Linked DNA regions of Homo sapiens. The protein of the gene in region 1 purifies or fractionates together with the protein of each later gene. This does not show direct contact. Each region holds a gene or a part of one and is shown in the gene's direction. Other genes may lie near its edges.

Region 1 (4,225 bases):
TGGTCTCGGCTCACTGCAAGCTCTGCCTCCTGGGTTCACATCATTCTCCTGCCTCAGCCTCCGGAGTAACTGGGAGTATAGGTGCCTGCCACCACGCCTGGCTAATTTTTTGGATTTTTAGTAGAGATGGGGTTTCACTGTGTTAGCCAAGATGGTCTCGATCTCCTAACCTCGTGATCTGCCCTCCTTGGCCTTGCAACATGCTGGGATTACAGGCAGCTTTTTTCTATTAAAAAAAATTACAGGTGTGCACCACCACGCCCGGCTAATTTTTTGTATCTTTGGTAGAGATGGGGTTTCACCATGTTGGCCAGACTGGTCTCGAACTCCTGACCTCATGATACGCCCGCCTTGGCCTCCCAGAGTGCTGGGATTACAGGCGTGAGCCACAGTGCCCTACCTTAAAAAAAATTTTTTTTTTTAACTTTTGTTAAAAATGAAGACACAAACACCTACTAGCCCAGGCCTACATAAGGTCGGGTCAGGTAATTGATATCACTGTCTTCTGCCTTCACACCATGTCCCATTAGAAGGTCTTTAGGGGGCAGTCATATGCATGGAACTGTCATCTGCGATAACAGTGCTTTCTTCTGGATATCTTCTGAAGGACCTCTCTGAGGCTCTTGAGGTGTCACTCTTATCAGAAATATGTCCATTGTGGTTTGCTTGGTTTCTTTTTTTTTGTCATAGGTTTGCTTGTAAACAGATAATGTACCATAAACATTCTTCTCTAGTAATGAAAACCTTTTGGCGTTGGAGTTCATGTTTCAGACTTTTTAAGGAACTTGAGGTCTGTAAAAGCTGCTGAACCCTTCACTGTGAATTTTCTTGGATGTTCTTTTCTTTCTGTGGCTACCTTTTCTCTTGCCTCTTCTTCAGCTATGAGTTCCTGTTCCATTATAATCTTAAGGGACCATTGTATATGCAGTGTGTCATTGACTGAAACATCGTTATGGTGCGTGACTGTATTACCATCTTGCATTAGTGTGGTACATTTGTTATAATTGATGTACACCTTCACTTTTTATGGTACTGGGTGCCTGGTTCTCTGTGTACATCCTGAAGGTTGGGGAGGGGTTGGAGTGATGGGTGAGGGAGCCTTATGGATATTGCTCAATTTTCCTGAAAACTTTGCTGTTCTAAGTAGCAGGGGCTATGGATTCTTATTTTTAAGAAAGCAGATCTTGGGCCGGGCGCGGTGGGTCATGCCTGTAATCCCAGCACTTTGGGAGGCCGCGACGGGCGGATCACGAGGTCAGGAGTTTGAGACCAGCCTGGCCAATATGGTGAAACCCCGTCTCTACTAAAAATATAAAAAATAAGCCAGGTGTGTTGGCGCGCGTCTGTAGTCCCAGCTACTTGGGAGGCTGAGGCAGGAGAATCACTTGAACCCAGGAGGCAGAGGTTGTAGTGAGTCGAGATTGCACCACTGCACTCCAGCCTGGGTGACAGTGAGACTCCGTCTCAAAAAAAACCAACCAAACAAAAAAAAAAAAAAAAGGAAAGCAAATCTTGTGACTGTTTAGGCAATGACCGTTAAAACTATGTATGGTAAATTTTGCAACCATTGTACAAATGAGCTGTTTTTTAACTATGTAAGTTTTCAAAAATTCAAAAATGGGGAATAATATGAACCCCTGTGCCCATCTCCCAGATTGAGCAATGATTAACATTTTTCAACACCTGCTTTGCTTATCTCCCTCCTCCTTTTTTTGTGGCTCTAAGATTTTAAAGTAAATCTCTGATTTCTTGTCATTTCAAACCTAAATTCTTCTGTGTGTACCTCTAAGAAAAATAAGGACATTCTGGCTGGGTGCCATGGCTCACACCTGTAATCTGAGCACTTTGGGAGTTGGAAGGATTACTTGAGCCCAGGAGTTCCAGACCAGCCTGGGCAACATAGGGAGACCCTGTCTCTACAAAAGAAAAAAAAAAAAAAATTAGCCAGGCATGTGGTGGCACATACTTGTAGTCCCAGCTACTTGGGAAGCTGAAGCAGGAGGATCCTTTGAGCTCAGGAGGTTGAGGTTGCAGTGAGCTGAGATGACACTAGTGCACCCAGCCTTGGTGACAGAGTGCGACCCTGTCTTGTCTCAACCAAAAAAAAAAAAAAAAGAAAATAAGGACATTCTGAACATAACCACGATGCCAGTATCATACCTAACAACATTAGTAATTCCTTAATATCACTTAAAATCTAGGCCTTTTAAAAATTTATTTATTTATTTTTTGTTTTTATTTATTTATTTTTTGAGATGGAGTTTCCCTCTTGTTGCCCAGGCTGGAGTGCAACGATGTGATCTTGGCTTACTGCAAACACCATCTCCCGAGTTCAAGCAATTCTGCCTCAGCCTTCCGAGTAGCTGGGATTACAGGCATGTGCCACCACGCCCAGCTAATTTTGTATTTTTAATAGAGACAGGGTTTCTCCGTGTTGGTCAGGCTGGTCTCGAACTCCCAACCTCAGGCGATCTGCCCACCTCGGCCTGCCAAAGTGCTGGGATTACAGGCGTGAGCTACTGTGCCCAGCCAAGTTTCTTAAAGAAACACTGTTTCTTAAAAAAATTGTTGGCTGGGCGCGGTGGCTCACGCCTGTAATCCCAGCACTTTGGGAGGCCGAGGTGGGCAGATTGCCTGAGGTTGGGAGTTGGAGACCAGCTTTGAGACAAGACTAACCTGGGGAAACCGCATCTCTGCCAAATACAAAAATTAGGTGGGTTTGGTGGTGCGCACCTATAGTCCCAGCTACTTGGGAGGCTGAGGTGGGAGGATCGCTTGAGCCCAGGTGATGGAGGTTGCGGTGAGCCAAGATCACGCCACAAAAAAGTGTTGGAATCACCCAGTCCTTAAGGGACTTACTTTCTAAGAGCCACTCTTTTCCTTCAGAAAGGGATAGGGTGGTCGGGAAGTATCTATTTCTCCCTAACCATTTATCCTTTGGGTCATTCAGCATCCAGTCAGCCTTTGTCAATCACCTGTGAGTCTAAGCACTGTGTCAGGTATGGGGGTAAAGGGCAAATCACATCCCCTCCTCCCTTTAAGCCCAGGTAGTGATTCTCCTTGAGAAGAATAAGAAAATGAAATCCGAAAAGTGCTATGGTTACTTTTCCCAGGAAAAATGCTTGTAGTGTTTAAAGGGGATTTATGGCCATCCTGAAATCTATCTGTGGGCCTAGGTTAGGACCCCCATTCTAGTGAGATTTCTTGGGGAATAGGGAGGGGCTCCAGGGATCCTTGAGGGTACATGAGTGTATTGAGGAGAGAGAAGAAATGGAACTCACAGCTGGGAGCTGGCAGGAGGTGGGGGAAGCAGTCCTGGGGTCCCCTGTTTTCTCTGAGGTGCTGCCGAGTTGCCAGCTGAATTTGAGACTGAATCCTGAATCCAGCACTTGTGAACTGGGTGACCCTTGCTGAGTTCTTTTTGAGGTTGATGCCTTATTTGTCCAGTCAGGTAATTTAGTGCCTGTATATTGAACACCTTGTATAAACCGGCACATTTTGCCAGGCAAGGCCATTTGGAGATGCTGACACTTCCTCAAAGGGCTGCCAAAAAGAATACATAAAAATGCCTTTGTTACATGTCTGGCTGAGTGCTTGGGACAGTGACAGGTCTGGGTGCAACAGCATAAGCCTGTGAAGCCAAGGGTTAGAGGCACCATTTGTCCAGGCATTTCCTGTGTGGCGTGTGGGGCTTGGTCAGTTTTCTCTTGGCAGCTGTTTTTTGGTGTTCAGGTGTGATATCTTGTTGGCTCGAGTTGCTTCCTCCTGTTTTTCCAGGGTCCCTGCCCTCCTCCTGCTTGGCTCTGTAGCTGTCATTGTCCAAGCTTGGAGGGCTCATGTACAAGCTAACATGGAGGAGGAGCTGGAAGATTGCCTCTCCCGGGGGTCTTGCCTGTTCAGTGGAAAGAAGATGGGATCATTACAGCCACTCCAGTCCCTGTTTTACTGGACCCGAGACATACCTCAGCTTCCTGGACCCCACACGCTCTTGGTTTTCCTCCTTGCACTGTCTTTTGCTGGCAGGTCTTGTGTGGTCCATTATTAAGTAGTATTGTTCTTCCTGGTTCTCTGAGAGGCGAGACCTTCCAAAATTTTCATCTCCAGGACCTGTCCAGTGCTGATGTCTCCACTTGCCTGTCTCCCAGGTCCAAAGTGGGACTTAACCTTGTATCCTCCAATGACCTCTCGCTGCCCGCTCCTACTGTGCCCTTTGGTTCAGTGACTC
Region 2 (3,862 bases), on another chromosome or scaffold:
ACTTCAAATTTACTAGACAGTGAAATATAAATGAGATGGTATGAAATCACTCTGAAAGTATTAGGGTTGGATATATTATGTAAGTTTCTATAATTAGAAAGCATTAAGTCCCAAATCGTACCAATAGTTTTAATCATATCTAAATGGATACTCACATACTAAATGTGATTAAATATAAAATGCATAACGAAATGTCACATCCTTTCCTGATAGAATACTAATAAGGCATAGTATTTCATGTGCAGGAAGATACAGGAAAACACACAAGTAAGAGTTTGTTTTGCATATATAAATTGTTATGCCTTTGAGATTCTTTTCTTCCTGATGGTAGGATTTGGAAACCATTGGACTAGATGATGTCTAAATTTCCTTTCAGTTCTAAAAATTACTAAATATCTTGCCCTTATAGCTTAGATACTGTCTCCAATAGGTTAAAGGCTCAGAGATGATAACACTTTCTGTTTAAAAGTTTTTAGAAACTTACTTTTGAATATAATGAAAATTAACTTTGAGGCATGCACTGTTTTGAAATCTAAATGCCTCTAAATCTACTTCAGACAACCCTTGCAGTTCTTGTTTCAAGGGAGGCAGAACCGTGTCTGTTATGCAGAGATCTTATATTAAACTTGCTGGGAAAATTGCCAGTGTGAATAAAGAAGTGAATATTCCTGCCAGGTAGGTAGGTATTTTATGATCTTTCTGTTGGCTGAAAGTGGTTGACTAATAAAGAGACAATGAAACACACTTAACTATTTGTATTTTTATGTTATCTTTCGAGAAAGTTTGTTTTCTATATATGAGTTAGTTTCTGCAGTCCCTTATGCATTTTTTAAGACCTGGAAATCCGTCCATTATAGTCGAAGAAGGCAACCCCAAGTGTTAACTGAATTAAATCCTAGCAAGTTCCTTGATTGTTATTCCTTAGAAACATTGTGTTTAAAGGTCTCAAGTTGTAAACATTCATGGTACTACTTTGTTATCTGTTAGGTCCATTTCTTTTCCTTTTTTTCTTTTAGATCTTTAGAATTTCAAACATGTACAAAAATAGATTAAGTAATGAATAAACCCCTGTGTATTCATCATCTAGTTTCAGCTACACCCTTGCTACTTATTAATTTAAAAATAACCTAAAAATTACATTGCAAACTAGAATTTTCTAGGACCTGAAATGTAGTCAGTAGGGGTTAGTTTATATGAGTAAAAGATAATATTTGGTTCACATGTAATCATGTTGAAATTACTTGAAAAATAAAGCTCTTGGCCGGACGCGGTGGCTCACTCCTGTAATCCCAGCACTTTGGGAGGCTGCGGTGGGCGGATCACGAGGTCAGGAGATCGAGACCATCCTGGCTAACACGGTGAAACCCCATCTCTACCAAAAATACAAAAAATCAGCCAGGGGTGGTCGCCGGCACCTGTAGTCCCAGCTACTCGGGGCTGAGGCAGGAGAATGGCGTGAACCCGGGAGCCGAGAACATGCCACTGCACTCCAGCCTGGGTGACAGGGCCAGACTCCGTCTCAAAAAAAAAAAGCTCTTTAGAAAAAGGCTTTCAAACTTTTTTGTCTGTGACCCAGATAGAGAAGTAGTTTTTGACTAATAGAAATTTATAACAAAATTACACAAATATGTAATATCTTGTGAAACATTACCTATTATTAATCTGTGTGAGGTAGTTAAGAGAACCATAGTGACCTTCTAAATTGAATTCACAATTCATGGGCCGTGAAACTCAGTTTGAAAAACAGCATTTTCAGGTATGGAGTAGTTTGGGGCTTTTGTTTATTTTTTACATGCCATGTTAGTCTGGAATAATTATGATTTTTGTTAACACAAGGATTTTCACTAGACATTTATCAGTAATATCAGCATATACTGTTATTAGTCATTATGAGTAAAGAAAATAAAACATTTTGGATTTATACATTAGCCATTATATATAGCGATTTTTTTTCCTTTTAGAACTTTAGAAAAAGGGGAAGCCACAGTAATTTGAATATAATCAAGACATAACTTTTCCAGTATATTCAGTTGACCTTCCTTTTAAATTAGACCTTGTGTTCCTTATTCCTGAGCCTTTGAGTTTGCAGGGCTGGGAGTACTAATGTTTATTCTAAGCCAAATGCTTTACTTGGTTGCTGTAGTCTGAGGCACATTTCTGTTGAGTACAGATTGACTTGAATACTGGCCAAGGGAAGAGAGAGAGAGGGTAAGCAGAACCATCACTAAAGAATCATCTGCCGTTCATGTTTAAGATCCTAGAGTAGTGGGATTATTTCCTAGTTTTTAGACACTGCTTCCTGGAGGAAAAAAAGGCAACAAGATGTCCTCCTTTGTTGGCAACTATCTGTGAAAAACTTCTAAATTCATAGATTGAAGGAATGTGTTAAATTTAACTTGGGATTTTTTTGATTATACGAGTTTAGCAGGTTTGGGAATCATTGCCGAACAACTGGAAAAAAATAGCACAAGGAGCTCCAGCATTGAAATTATATTCATTAATGCTGAATCTCAAATCGTGCATCAAGGGAGATGAAATAAATGGCCTTAATGCAAACCAGGAAACTGCTACCTGGAAAAAAGCAAGTATAAAGAGGTTTCAAATAGCTTGCAGTGAACTGTCATTGAATTACCCTTACACAAATAACATAGTGATCACGTATCAAAAGTATGGTGCTAACCTAACAGCATTACTGTTTTCTACTAGGATTGAACTCCAAATAAGAATACTTTCTAACCACATTTTGGAAGAGACATAGAATCTATGTTGATGGTAGCTTAAGATTTAGGAGAAAAGCCTGAAGGAGCTAAACTTAGGAACAGGGAGCACTAGGGGGATGTGATTATCTATTAATACTTTCAAGGTAGCAGTGTAAATGAAGTAAGGGAATTAGGCAGTCTCCAAAGATGGATGGGCTGTATCAAAGAGCAATGGCCTAGAGCACAGGGAAGAAAGCATAGGTTTAGTATTAAGATGATTTTAATGAAACTAGCGGAAGAATAGAGTTATTTGCACTCATCGTCAGAACCATTATAAGTAGGACAAAGAGCTGGTTGAGAGGGTACTCAAAAACAGAAATGATCTCTTTCTTACATAGTACTGTGCTTGTTTAGAAGCTCAATGAGAGAAAAATATGGAAATGAATATGAAATGAAATGGACTTTTCAAAAGTTAGTGTGTTTTTCTGTTGTTTGTTTTGTTTTGAAACAGGGTCTCACTCTGTTGCCTAGGCTGGAATGCAGTGGCGTGATCATTACTCACTGCAGCATCAACCTTCCAGGCTCAGGTGATCCTCCTGCCTCAGCTTTCCAAGTAGCTGGGACCACAGGCGCATACCTCCATGCCTGGCTAATTTTTGAATTTTTTGTGGAGATGAGGTCTCCCTATGTTGCCCAGGCTGGTCTCAAACTCCTGGACTAAAGTGATCCTCCTGCCTGTGCCTCCCAAAGTGCTGGGATTACAGGCATGAGCCACAGCCCCCCTGCCAGCCAGAAGTTTTTAAAGATCAGAAATTAGTGTTTCTAGCTCTAAACTTCTATGATTATGAATCCAAGTAAAATGGTAGATTAACTTTGGAATCCATTAAGGTAGCTTTTAGGACTTGCCTGTGATATTAGAACAGAATTTTGCTTACTATAACCTTCAGAAGCAACTTCTTTTTGTTATCAAAAAGCTAAACTATGAAATCCTTCCAATACGTGTTGAATACAAAGAAGCCTAGATAATAAAGAGCCCGTTAGACTTTATATGAAACCTAGTAAAAGTATAACCTTTGGCCATTAGAAATTAAGCTTTTTCTTTTATATGGTAAATGTATGCTATTAAAAACCTGGAAAAGGACACTTTCATCCTAACTCCTAAG
Region 3 (3,862 bases), on another chromosome or scaffold:
ATAGTATGTACTCTTGATTTATGTGAACATGACCATCTGTGGTAAGAAAAGATCAACTATAAAAAATTTTTAAACCAGCAACACGTTTTTAATAAAACATGGTTCCTACATAAGCCAACTAATTTATTTGCTGCTGATCAGTTCAAGAAATAGGGATTTGTTTTGAGGCTATAGGAAAAACAGTTGTGGGTGGTGTGCCCTTTGGGAAAGAGGTGGTATACCTCAAACCAGTTATCATGAACTTTGTGTGGAACTTTAGAAGAACTTTCCTAAGCAGTGTTGATTGCATGTGATTTTTGCTTCACACATTGAGTTCAGAACTTACTCCATTTAAAATGTATACGTGTGGTGGTTCATGCCCGTAATCCCAGCACTTTGGGAGGCCGAGGCGGGGGGATCGCAAGGTCAGGAGATCGAGACTATCCTGGCTAACACAGTGAAACCCCGTCTCTACTAAAAATACAAAAAATTAGCCCGGCGTGGCGGCTTGCGCCTGTAGTCCCAGCTGCTGGGGAGGCTGAGGCAGGAGAATGGCATGAACCTGGGACGCAGAGCTTGCAGTGAGCCGAGATGGCACCACTGCACTCCAGCCTGGGCAACAGAGCGAGACTCCGTCTCAAAAAAAAAAAAAAAATGCAAACCATGCAGGAGGTATAGAGTGGCTAGTCCTTCTTCAGTCTGACAAGCACGTCTTAATGCAGCCAGAGGTAACAGGTACAAGGCTGTGTACGAGTATTGGAGATAAAGGCTGGTTGGGCACTGGCTCCATTAAGAAATGCAGATGTGGTGCAAGAGATAGCAGCAGGAATCAACAGCTAAGATGAAGACAAAGTGGGTTGGAGGGCAGAGGGTGCAGTGGGACGTAGGCAAGAGGACATAATGGGGCGGAGGGAAGAGGATGTAGTGGGCTGAGGGGCTGCCACGGAGGGGTGCCCAGTTCTGCTTCTGCTAGAAGGGGCAGGGGAGTGAGAGAATGTCAGCCAGGTCAGAGAAGATGGGAAGAGTCCCAGGATGTGCTGACGAGGAGAGTCTGGCATGACTGGTCTGAGGTGGGCCGTGATGACAGACAGTGTGGAAGAAATAAGAGCAGCCTGGAGGGCCCCTGGGTGCCAAGCAAAGAGGTGCAGCTTCTCTCTGGAGAAGCTGCCTGGAGGGTTGAATGAAGAGATTGGTGGGTGTCTTGGTCCAACTTACCTGTTGGCAGCATGGAGAGTGGGTTGGCGGGCAAACAGTGGAGTCAGGGAAGCCTGCTAAGAGACCAGTGGAGTAATCCAGGCAAGTTCTGAACTAGGGGAAAGCTGACGGGGTTGAGTGGTGGGGACCAAGAGACGGGATCCATGGCAGGAACAGTGACATGCAGAGGAACCTGGCATGTGAGAGAGGGAAGAGGCCAGGCTCAGCCTAGGACCTGCAGATTCCGAGGTGCACATGGACCACAGATGTCCCGCAGGGCTGAGAGTGTGGGTGTGCCCATGGTAGGAGGCTTATGATGGAAAGAGGTCAGCTGGCCTTACAAGGTCATTTGAAACAACACCCAGGCAGGGCTGACCAGGGGCTTCTAGTAGGTAGGTCTTGTGCTGAGGAGAGAAGGCAGCACTGGAGACCCGGCTTGAGAGTGTCTGCACGGGGCTGGAGATGCAGGTCATAAGAGAAGATGCATGGAGAGAGAGAGTGAAAAGCGGAAACTGAAGTTGAAGCAATGGACTTGGGGGTGCCCCATTGATGGGGTAGGCAGGAAGACATTGGAGCCAGGAGGAGGCAGGAAAGCTGCTGTGGTAAGCTCTACACTTCAATGTGCTGGTATGTGTGGTGGGAGACGCTGGAGCAGTGCCAAAGTCATCCATCTGACCTTTAATGTTGTGAAATGTCATGTATGGTGAACTGGAGCTCTGCTTTCTCCAGAAGTGAGTGGGCCTTGGCCCGGTTTACTGGCCACAGAGACATTCTACCTGTTATCTACCTTCAGGAGACATCTACCTGTTATCTGCATTCTATGAAATGTGCAAGTTGTACAGATTCCTGGGGCTGGAGCAGCTCCCTCCCCGATCCTGCTCCCTTTCTCCTCTCTTCCTCTCATCCTCTCTCCTTTCCTCCTTAGTATCTCAAAAATGCCCCCAGAGATACTGTAGGCTTAACAGAGGGATCTTCAGAAATCCCAGCAGGTCCCTATTATGACCTGGCTCAAGCCAGAGGCATGAATAGTTCTGCTTTTCTTTTAGGCATTCTGTTTCCAGACAACCAGTTATACCAAGTGGAGAAGGTTCATCTTGGGAGGTAAATGAGGGATTGGACGCAAACCTTATCATGTTTTCATCATCGTTTTCCCCAGAGGGCTTCATTAAATGGTACCCTTCCCATCTTCTCCCTTCATGCTTTGACCCAGCCCAGACATGCTGGGCCTCAGGGAATCCAGCTGCCCTGCAAACAACCTCCACATGTGCCTGGGGCAGGCCTCTGGGCTCAGGGGCAGCTGTGGTGACCGGGCTGGCCCGGACTGCACGTGGCCTTGCTGTCTCAGTGGTATGTCTCTTTCAAATGACCTTGCAGAGCTTGCTGCCCTGGTCACAGCCTAGCAAACCTCCTTCATCCCATTTGCTGCTCTCCTTGCTGGCTGACAGCCCAGCTTGCACCTTGGGGGCCCCTGGCTCAGTCACGCGTGGGAGGATTCCCATGGAAACCCCAGGAGGAGGAGAGGCTCAGGGAAGCCTCATTGATTCTCGCTCCAGGAAAACAGGCGTGAGATGATTCCACCTGGAACTGGACAGATGGCTCTCTTTGTGAGCTCTTGGGGAAGAAAGGGCTTGCCCAGCCAGTTGTAGCCTGAGCTCCATGTGTGTATAGCAGGGAAAAGCTAATGAATGCCTATGAACAAAACCTTGGGGGTTCTTTAGTTCATTCATTGTTGGTGGGTTCATTCTGAATGAGCATCTTTAATAAAACAGCCTCCCTACTTAATATTTGCACAAGAAAAATCTTAAAAACATTCCAGTTAAACTAAGGTCAGGCACCTATCATTGGTACCTTTGCACAGAGTCAAAAATTGAAAAATAAAGACATGAAATAAATAGTCTGAGCTCACAGTGCTCTGCATTCCCAGTTCATTCTTAAGTGTTGGTTCTTTCTAAGGCAGTGTATTGCTTTTCTTCATTTGTTCGTGCTCGTGCATTCCATAGACGTTCACCCACCACTTTCTCTAAGCCAGGTCCATGGGGACTCTGATGAGGGACACCCGGCCCCTGCTCCCAAGTTGCCCCAGTCCGATGGGAGGGAGGCAGCCAAAGAGACATCATGTCCCCTTGTGATAAGAGCTGTGGTGGGCACAAGTACAAGGGCTCTGAGAGCACAGGGGGCTGGGGAGCTCCCCAGAGGCACTAATATCTAATATCCTGAAAGCCTCAGAGAACCTGTCGAGGATTTTGAGCAGGAGCGTGATTAGATCAACTGTGTACTTTTACAAGTGCAGTAGTATATATTTGAAAGTAATATGCAGTCTATAAAGGAATTCCAGTGGTATCTAACTGGATTTCTTTTTACAGTCTTTGTCATTATTCAGATCTCTCGTGGAGTCTGACCCCTTTGGTGTAGGCTGTCTCCCTAAGGGAAAGTGGTTGAGTCTTATGCTTTTCAGCAGCCTGAGATCCCCAGGGCAGGCATCATTACTGCTGGCTAGATGAAAGAAGGAGACTTGCCCCCACCTCTGGCTCCAGCAAGTCCAAAGCCAGAGGCCACACAGAGAGAAGGGCATTTCACGCAGTCACTACCAATCCCCACAGCAGTCATGTCTTCTTGCAGACCCCGTGCCTATTGAGCTCAGCTAGACAGGCCTCTGTGGCTGTGATTTTGGGTCCCAGGCCTCTGAAGA
Region 4 (3,862 bases), on another chromosome or scaffold:
AAATCTCATAGAGATGCAGTTCCTTTCTAGATTCATGTGCTCTTCCCCATCTCTCTCCCCAACACTGAGACACACACGCGCAAACGTACACTCACACACTCACACTTACTTATTTATATTTCTCTTGCTAAACCATTTGAGAGTTGCAGACATCATGACACTTTACTGCTAAATATTTCGGCATGTTTCCTAAGACCAAAGATGTTTTCCTACAAAACTGCAAGACAGTTTTCCTCTCAGGAAATTGAGCACCCTTGTCTAATACACAGTTGATATTCAAATTTCCCACCATATACCAACAATGTCTTTTATAGCTCTTGTTTTTTTTTCTGGGATCTAGAATTTAATAAAGGGTCACACATTGGTTTTAGTTGTGGACAGTCCTTCTTTTGAATAATTTCCCTCAATTTTCACTTATGTGATTTTTTCTTCATGAGACACTGATTGAATGTTTTCAGCAGGAAAACTTTACTGGTGATGTTGTGTCCTTTCCAGAGCATCACATCAGGAAGACAGGATGTCACTTGTCCCACTGTTGGTGATGCTAACTTAGCCTACTTGGTTAAAGTAGTGGCATTTTCTTTTTTGTAATTAATAAACTTTGGGGTTGTATTTTGAGAAGATGTGACTATCTGTTCCCCAGTAGTCTTTCACCCAGGGGTTTTAGAATCCTCTGATGATTTTTACAAAATGGTGATTTTAAAAATTCTATACTTCCTTCTTCATTTATTACTTGACATTCTGCGTGATAACTCTGAAGGCCATTGAGCAATAGTAATTATCACATAAATACATTTTGTTTTGTTCCCAAAGTGTCGAATACCCCAAAAATCATGTGTTAACTGAGGTATATTCCATAGGAATTTCAGAGATCTATTTTCATAGCAAAAAGAAACCCCTGTAGTCTTATAAAGATTGTATTTAATAAAAGATACCTCCTAGGGGAGCCCTTGTGTAAAAATAATAACAGTAATAAAAAGAAAGAAGAAAACTTTTAATATATTAAATAGCCTAAAAACCTTTTAGCAAAATGTAAGCAATCAACTATATGTATCACTGGAAATGCAGTATTGTTCAGTATTATAAACTGGAGAGGAGATAAGTCTTTTCTTGCCGAAGGATAATTTAGGACTTTTTTTGTAACCTAAAATGAATTTCAACTGTAACTTCTGACGTGTTTGATATATAGGTGCTGGCATCACGGGCATTCAACGTTTCATCTTCAGTGCCATAGTCAGATTACTAACCCTTTGGGCCTCTGTTTCTCATCTGCAAACTGAAGAGTTGGACACATTATAAAATCCTTTCAGATTCTTAATGTTGGATGATTAAAAACATTTATTATAGGAGTTGGGCTTCCTACTCCCTTTGGCTAAAGAGAGTATTGCTCTAGTTACTTGGTTTACACTCACGTGAATAAATGTAGTAATATAGATGCCAAGGTGAGTAGGAAAGAAGAAAACAAAATATGGACAAAAACCATGAAGCATCATAATAGATTATGGTAGGTCTGTTTCTCTTTCAGGACTATATGCTATGGGAGTTTCTTCTTTTGTTCCATGCAAGAAGATTTTTAAAATAGAGACCTCCCTTGACAAAGAAAATCAGAGATATCCTTATAAACTAGCAAGGGAGAAGAGTTTAATAACCGACTAGCTCACAGTTCTTTTCTGCCCAATGCCTCAACTACTTCTGGCTAGATTCTGACAGCAACTGCTCCTCTAAAAGTCATCAGAGAAGAGAGGATCAGTTTCTACCCTTAGGTACCCGAAGGGAATGTATTCCGCATTCTTTCATATTTCAGCTGCCTCTTTCACTTCTGTGCCCCAGGAAGACTAGAAAACTGGCTCTCTACTTCTTGTTAATTTCTTATTAAATTAAATAGTCAATGAAGGCATTTTGTGCCTGAGCCTTCTGGTCCCCATGAAGAATAAACTCGTGGGAGAGAGAGGAAGGGACTGGATTATTCTGCTGGGTGACAGTACACTTAGGGAAAAAGGTCAAGGAAGAAAAGTCCATCAGGCATTTTTGTTTTAATTTTTAAAATTCCTGTTTAACAATACAGGGTCTCTTGCAACGTGTGAGCTGCCTCTTGCCAAGAGTGAGTGGCAAAAGAAACTAACCCCGGAGCAGTTCTACGTCACAAGAGAAAAGGGAACGGAACCGGTAAGCTAAGCTGGTTTACAGTTTTCTGATTGCATGTGTTGGCAGTGAGGGGCCAGTTGGAATAGGTCCAGCTATGAAACCCAGCTGCCCAGCAACACTCCACAGGCCTGGTCTTCCTCTTCCATTGTGCCCTTCTCGGGGTGTTGATATCCATCGAGTTGTAGAAACCTGAAACTTTTCTCTGGACACAGCATCTCTATTCTGACTCCTAAATAACCTTCCTGTCATTTCACTTCCATGCACCGCTGTCACCTCCCCGTGGGGCCAAGTCACCATCACCTTCTCTGTGCATGGCCATTCTTGCTCCAGCCAACCCATTCTCCACACTGCAGCCAAAGAGTTCTTTGGAAAACACAGATCTGACCATATCACTCCCCAGCTCAAAACCTTTGGTGGCTGCCCAGTGCTTTCAAGGAAAAAGAAAAGTATGAGATGGCTAATAAGGTCCTAACGGCCCCTGGCTCCCACCCCTATCCTCAAATCCAGCCATCTTCCCTCTTGACACGGTACTTTGGCCACACCACCCTTGAGCTCTCACATGCCCTGGGCTCCCTTCTCTTTTAAGGCCTTTGCACCCAGCTTTCCTTCTTCTCTCCCGTCATCCCTCCCCACACTCTCCACCCATTCATTCAGACCTACCTTGTAGCTCTCGGCCCAAATCTCACTTTCTCTGGCAAACCTTCTCCTAGCCCCCAGCTAGGGTTGCTTCTAGCAGAACTCTTCCTTCATAGCATTTGCCATCACTGCTGTAACCCCTGGCACCTAACGTGGTGGCTGGCCTAGTAGGCATCCGAAAAATCAACTTTTGTGAATGTTGAATGACTGCCGGGTAAGAGGTGGAAACATTATTTAAACTGCATTTGGCAATCTCAGCTTTCATTCATTTTCTGAGAGAACAACCCTCAGTGGTTCTTCATTATAACACCACTTTTTACAGTGCTACATTTATCTCTCTCTCTCTGTGTGTCTGTGTGTGTGTGTGTGTGTGTGTGTGTGTGTATACAAGTTTCTGGGGTACTTGAGAAAATTTGTTACACATATATAATGCATAGTAATCGAGTCAGGGTATTTAGGGTGTCTGTCACCCGAATACAATACATTTTTGTTAAGTGTCATCCTCCTACTCTGCCATCAAACACTGAGTGTATTCCTTTTCTCTTACTGTATGTTTGTGGACTTTAAGCCACTCCTCTTCATCCTCCCCCTACCCCCTGCTTTCCAGGGTAGGAAACCCCCTTTCCAGGCTCTGTTATCCATTTTTCCACTCTCTACCTCCATGTGTTCAAATTCTTTAGCTCTCACATATAAATGAGAACATAGTGCCGCGTTGCTTAACAAGTGGTCTGTCTTAGACCCAAATATAGCTACTGGAATGTAGCTTTTTTGAATTGAACTTTGTTATTAGATATTTTTACTAGTGAAGCAGATCCCACAGAGTGGACCCCAGCCCTGTGGCTTCAAACATAGTAGAGTATGAATGTTTTTTCCTTTGTCAGCACCTGCAAAACTCATGTCACTACCCACATGCACTGCCATTGTAATCATGGTCTCACCCTCAGTTTTTCCAATGCTAAAGTCATCAGAAGGGCCAGCACATTCCAATAAAGTCCCCTGAAATGCTGGTATTTTTGAAAACTTCCTGTAGGCGGGATTTTACTAAAGCCCTTGTTGGGAAAGAGACTACATTAGCCATTTG

The links. Proteins that work in one complex are often made in the same cells at the same time.
Region 2: the proteins of HDHD5 (region 1) and NPTN purify together in Homo sapiens (co-immunoprecipitation; one large-scale study listed by IntAct). This does not show direct contact.
Region 3: the proteins of HDHD5 (region 1) and SPSB4 purify together in Homo sapiens (co-immunoprecipitation; one large-scale study listed by IntAct). This does not show direct contact.
Region 4: the proteins of HDHD5 (region 1) and MSRB2 purify together in Homo sapiens (affinity purification with mass spectrometry; one large-scale study listed by BioGRID and IntAct). This does not show direct contact.

The regions. Positions count from the first base shown.
Region 1 is NC_000022.11:17,152,507-17,156,731, reverse strand, and holds part of HDHD5 (haloacid dehalogenase-like hydrolase domain-containing 5 isoform 2 precursor), read left to right. Parts: intron 1-4,225.
Region 2 is NC_000015.10:73,623,028-73,626,889, reverse strand, and holds part of NPTN (neuroplastin isoform b precursor), read left to right. Parts: intron 1-3,862. UniProt on the Homo sapiens protein: Probable homophilic and heterophilic cell adhesion molecule involved in long term potentiation at hippocampal excitatory synapses through activation of p38MAPK. May also regulate neurite outgrowth by activating the FGFR1 signaling pathway.
Region 3 is NC_000003.12:141,054,347-141,058,208, forward strand, and holds part of SPSB4 (SPRY domain-containing SOCS box protein 4), read left to right. Parts: intron 1-3,862. UniProt on the Homo sapiens protein: Substrate recognition component of a SCF-like ECS (Elongin BC-CUL2/5-SOCS-box protein) E3 ubiquitin-protein ligase complex which mediates the ubiquitination and subsequent proteasomal degradation of target proteins.
Region 4 is NC_000010.11:23,102,079-23,105,940, forward strand, and holds part of MSRB2 (methionine-R-sulfoxide reductase B2, mitochondrial precursor), read left to right. Parts: intron 1-2,065; coding exon 2,066-2,166; intron 2,167-3,862. UniProt on the Homo sapiens protein: Methionine-sulfoxide reductase that specifically reduces methionine (R)-sulfoxide back to methionine.